2 separate regions of the Homo sapiens genome follow, and region 2 is linked to region 1. The links come from fine-mapping of genetic effects on gene expression. A gene starts in region 1. The other region holds a variant in brackets. All regions are shown on one strand. Distances are between the middles of the regions.

Region 1 (2,933 bases):
AAGTAGGCTGATTTGAGGAGCTGTAATGTGAATTTTTATAAACTTAAGATTTTAAAAACTTTACTACTCAATATCAATGTTTACCATTCTAGTTATTTTTCTTAGTTCTTATATTATTTAGAAATACTAATTTCTTACAAACATTTTTCTTCACTAACACTTTAAAACATAACATTTTGTTCTTAATGTAATAATATGGCTTAGAGAAATAAAGAAGTGCTAATATTGAAATACAATTGAAAAAAGAAAACACTTTTCCTCCTAGATGACAAATCAGATTTTCTAAAGTGGGCAATAAAGTTAAATCCACTGAGAACTGGAATTTAATTTTATTGAAAAGTTTTGAAAATGAGCTTCTCTTTTAAATCTATTTGAGAGCATTCTTTTCTTTTAGAGTCTTCATGAAAAATCCTGTCTGCACGTTATGTAAAAGCTATTGATCTCTTTCAATTTTTAAATAAAGAATCTAGCCATAACTTCGTGTTTTGCTACATTGGAATATTCATGACATAAATATATAAAGATGATTGAATTGGATAGAATCAAAATATTGACATGTCTTATATTTGATTTCCAGAGTTTCATTAAATTGCAAGAACCCCGAAATATGGACATCCACATGTACTGGGAAAATGGTTTCCAGAGAAATCATTAGAAAAAAAATCAGGTCACACATACTATTTGTTCACACCTTAATCAACATACAAATGCTGACATTTATATATATTGCTTCAGTCTACAAATTTTAGAATCTAAATGTGTTAATAAAAAAGGCATATTTTTGAACCCAAATAAATTTACTATTTGTGTCTTTCTGAATATCTAAATTTAATAATCATTACAAAGTAGCCATCAATAGCTAATTATCTATAATAGATATTCACATTGTAGAGTTAATTTTGTTGCCCAAATGACATGAAACAAAAATGGCCTTGAACTATTCTGCTAGAAATGGTTTTTGCTATGGTAATTACAAAAATAAGAAATTATTTGCATAACAACTTCTCATAGAATTAGGTAAAAATAATTTAAATTAGCTTACCCCAAGCCTCTACTGAAATTATGTATCAACTTTAAAAATATATTTTAGTTACAAAATTATCAAAAAATGATTTGGTATTTTTATAAAACTGTATTGATTCATCACCTAAAGCTGTAAAATGGTATCAGAATTTGCAAAAGGATTTTTAAGGTGCCAGAAAATCATAAGAAGTTTTAATATTTGCAAACATATGGAAATGGTACAAATATACTTAGTAAACAGTGGAAGAAAGAGATTAGATAATGTAAAATGATAGCAATTTTGCTGTATGTAAACGCAGTACCTTAAGCCCAAGTCTGGAGAGAAGCAAGTTGTGTTGATGACCAAGATGATGGCCGATCTCTTTGCTTTACGCTATTTAAATGTGGTAATTAGAAAATGCTAATTTTGTGGTTTCAGTTCAACCAATAGGTTTATTTAAATTCTAAGAATTCTCCCAAATAGGAAACTAATTTTCTGTCCAATTCCTTTCCCAGGAAATTCTGAGAATTTTCAACAGGGAGTGATTCATGCTATGATAACAGATTACACAAGAAATAAAGTGGCATTATTGCAAATTAAAATACAAAAATTTCCAAATTTATGGCTATTATAAAAACATGATTTTATGTTGAAGGGATAATTTGACAGGAACATATTAATAAAATTCTCTGTATATCTTTTGAAAAATTCAATTCCTATAATGGAAATCCTGGGGACAAAATAGGGTCTTAGAAACGTTCCAATTTCTATCAGTGTACCAGGCCATTAAAAGAATTCATCATTTATTTACCTTTTAAAATGCAGCTTGTCCTCTATTATTTATTGTGACTATCTGCTTTATGGATTAACTTATACTGTATATGCTCTGATCTTTTTTTCAAAGAAGGATATCCAACTGTCCTATGTGTTTTGGTGATATTTAAGCTACAGCAGACAATTTTTTGTTTGCTTTCTTTTAGGCATATTGGTTGTGATAGTATTTATTTAACAAATTATAACATTGACTAATTAGAAGTAATATTTATTCATTAATTTTAATTTTAAAAGATTTTGGAAAATTATGCCATACCTCTGATTTCCTGTTTTTTAAAAGTAAATAAAGGAAAGAAATGAAAATGCCTCTCTCCTATCCCAGACTCTGTTCCTTTATGTTAACTATCATTATACAATGTAGAAAAATACTATATCCTGAGGAAAATATCTGTAATAGAGAGGGTTTTTAAAAATTGTTGTTGACTGCGACTTTGCTTTTTTACAGGAAAAGAATCATACTATATATTTTAGGAAATAAAAAAATAGTAATGATATTTACAGCCTTTTCACAGTCATATGAAAAGGGCATTATTCTGGGTTAACACACATTTCAGACTGGTTAATTTCAGATTGGGGATCAGAAGAGATGTACTTTTCCATATTAAAGTTCTCTTTAGTTAGTGTTTTCCTTACTGACTACATCACATAAATTTCAACAACTTACTAGTGTTTCCTATTCACTGTGATTCATTTAAGAGGCTGAGACAAGCATCAGCTGTATTACAGTACCTTGGTTTTGTCTTTTCCCAGAAGTGTACCCAGGAAAACTGATTTATTTTACTCCTAACTCAAAATCAAGCTATACCTACCAACCAAAAAAAAGGCCAGGACCAGATGGATTCACAGCCGAATTCTACCAGAGGTACAAGGAGGAGCTGGTACCATTCCTTCTGAAACTATTCCAATCAATAGAAAAAGAGGAAATCCTCCCTAACTCATTTTATGAGGCCATCATCATCCTGATATCAATGCCTGGCAGAGACACAACAGAAAAAGAATTTTAGACCAATATCCCTGATGAACATCGATGCAAAAATCCTCAATAAAATACTGGCAAACCAAATCCAGCAGCACATCAAAAAGCTTATCCACCATG
Region 2 (2,933 bases), 260 kb after region 1:
ACAGTAGGTCTTATTTATTCTTTCTATTTATTTTGTAGACATTAACCATCTCCACCTCCTTCCTCCCTCCAGCCCCTCACTACCATTCTCAGCCTCTGGAAACCATCCTTCTTCTGTATGTCTATGAGTTCAGTTGTTTTGACTTTTGGATTCCACAAATAAGTGAGAACATGTGACGTTAGTCTCTCTGTGCCTGTCTTATTTCACTTAAAATAATTATCTTCAGTTCCACCAATGTTGTTGCAAATGACAGAATCTTATTCTTTCTTATGGCTGAATGGTACTCCATTGTGCATTATGTACCACGTTTTCTTTATCCATTTATCTCTTGATGGACACATACGTTGCTTCCAAATCTTGACTACTGTGAAGAGTGCTACAACAAACAGGAATGCAGATATCTCTTCAATACACTAATTTCCTTTCTTCTCACTATATACCTAGCAGTGAGATTGCTGGATCATATGGTACCTCAATTATTAGTTTTCTGAGGAACCTCCAAACTGTTCTCCATAGTGGTTGTATTAACTTACATTTCCACCATCATTTCCTTTTTCTCCACATCCTCAGCATCATTATTAATGTCTGTCTTTTGGATATAAGCCATTTCAACTGGGGTGAGATGATAGCTCATTGCAGTTTTGATTTACATTTTTCTGATGAACAATGATGTTGAGCACATTTTCATATGCCTGTTTGCCATCTGTATTTCTTCTTTTGAGAAATGCTTACTTCTGCCCATTTTTGACTGGATTATTAGATTTTTTTCCCCTATAGAATTGTTCAAGCTCCTTATATACTCTAGTTATTAAGCCCTTGTCAGATGGGTAGTTTACAGATATTTTCTCCATTTCTTTGGGCTTTCTCCTTACTTTGTGAATTGTATTTTTTTGATGTGCAGAAGCTTTTTAACTTGTGATCCCGTTCTTCTGTCTTTGCTTTGTTTGCCTATGCTTGTAAGGAATTGCTCAATAAATTTTTGCCTAGAACGATGTCTTGGAAATTTTCCCAAATGTTTTCTTGAAGTAGTTTCGTAGATTGAGGTCTTAGATATAAGTCTTTAATTCATTTTAATTTGATTTTGGTAGCTGGTGAGAGATAGGAGCTAGTTTCATTCTTCTGCATATGGATATCCAGTATTCCCAGCACTATTTATTGAAGAGACTGTCTTTTCTTCCAGTGTATATTCTTGGCACCTTTCTCAAAAATGAGTTCACTGTACGTGTGTGGTTTTTGTTTCTGGGTTCTCTATTCTGTTCCATTTGTTTCTGTGTCTGTTTTTATGTGAGTACAATGCTGCTTTGGTTACTATAGCTCTGTCATATAATTTGAAGTCAGGGAATGTGATTACCCCAGTTGTGTCTTTTTCCTTAGGATACCTATGGCTATTTGGGGTCTT[T/C]TGTGGTTCCACACACATTTTAGGATTGTTTTTTCTATTTCTGTGAAGAATGTCATTGGTATTTTTATAGGGATTGCATCGAATCTGTAGATTGCTTTGGGTAATATGGACATTTTAACAATATTGATTCTTCCAACGAATGAACATGGAATATCTTTTCATTTTTAATTTTATGTGTAGCTATTGTAAATGCTATTACTTTTTTATTTCTTTTTCATATTGTATGCTGTCAGAATGTAGAAATGTTGCTGATTTTTGTATGTTGATTTTATATCCTGCAACATTACTAAATTTGTTTATCAGGTCTAGTAGTTTTTCAGTGGTGCCCTTAGGTTTTTCCAAATATATTATCATATCATCTGCAAACAAGGATAATTTGACTTCTTCCTTTCCAATTTCCATGTCCTTTATCTTTCTCTTGTTTGATTGCCCCAGCTGGGACTTCAAGTACTATGTTGAATAACAGTGGTGACAGTGGGCATCCTTGTCATGTTCCAGATCTTAGAGGAAAGGCTTTCGGTTATTCCCCATTTAGTATGATACTAGATATGGGTCTGTTGATATTGTTTGGATTCGTGTCCATGCCCAAATCTCATGCCTAATTGTGATTCCCAGTGTTGCAGGAGGGGCCTGTTGGGAGCTGACTGGATCATGGGGGTGGATTTCTTCCTTTCTGTTCTCATGATAGTGAGTGAGTTCGCACTAGATGTAGTTGTTTAAAAGTGTGGAGTACCTCCCGCTTTGCTCTCTCTTCCTCTTGCTCTTGCCATGTGAAGACATGCCTCCTTCCTCTTCACCTTCTGCCATGATTGTAAGTTTCTTGAGGCTTCCCCACCCGTGCTTCCTATGCAGCCTGAAGAACTATGAGCCAATTAAACCTCCTTTCTTTATAAATTACCCAGTCTCAGGTAGTTCTGTATAGAAATGCAAGAATATACTAATATATCTGTCATATATGGCTTTTATTATGTTGAGGATTGTTTCAAGACAGTGTTGGAAGAATGAGCTGAGCACTCAAGTGAGGGGGATGGGAAAACTAAAACTTTATTACTGTGAGCAAATATCACAACAAAAACAGCCTTGTAACAAGAGAAGAAAAAAGTGTAACCAAAGCTCAACAAAATGTAACCAGAAGCTCATCAGACCACAGGAAGAATCATCACCGGAGTCAGAAGGCAGACGCCTAGCATCCTGGAGTAAAAGTTGTAAGCAAATATCACAGCAAAAGCAGCATTAAGTAGGTATAAACGAACCAGCAAAAGAAGACAACATGTAACCATAGCTCACCAGACCACAGGAAGAGTCATCATCAGAGTGGGAAGGCAGACACCTGGGATCCTGCAATTGGCGTTGGTGCTGTTCCCCAGCACACAACAGCCTTCAATCCTCCTTTGTGTAAACTCCCTTTATTAAGTCCAGTTGTTACTTTGGGCACCCTCTTTTGTTTGCTCAGGAGGCCCCTTCCCAAGCAAGCAACACTGAAACAATCATTATGGGAGCAATGTTCTGGGACCCCCTCCCGGACTTTATCATT

Which allele goes with the higher level. Alleles are on the strand shown, and positions count from the first base shown. SD is a standard deviation of normalised expression in the study named.
For the expression in fibroblasts of the gene that starts at base 1,375 in region 1, T is the low allele of the variant in region 2 and C is the other (moderate effect, 0.42 SD a copy in GTEx).

Evidence for each region. PIP is the estimated chance that this variant, and not a neighbour inherited with it, causes the effect.
Region 2: its variant is the best candidate, but not a certain one, in a credible set for the expression of CSN1S1 in fibroblasts (GTEx, PIP 0.86).

Annotation. Positions count from the first base shown.
Region 1 is chr4:69,929,510-69,932,442 of GRCh38, reverse strand. CSN1S1 (casein alpha s1) reads right to left here and starts at 1,375. Exons shown (of 16, transcript NM_001890.2): 1 at 1,326-1,375.
Region 2 is chr4:69,674,467-69,677,399 of GRCh38, reverse strand. No RefSeq gene overlaps it. Among named protein-coding and RNA genes, the nearest start is that of UGT2A1, 23 kb to the right of the region's middle. The variant T/C (reference allele first, on the strand shown) is at 1,400.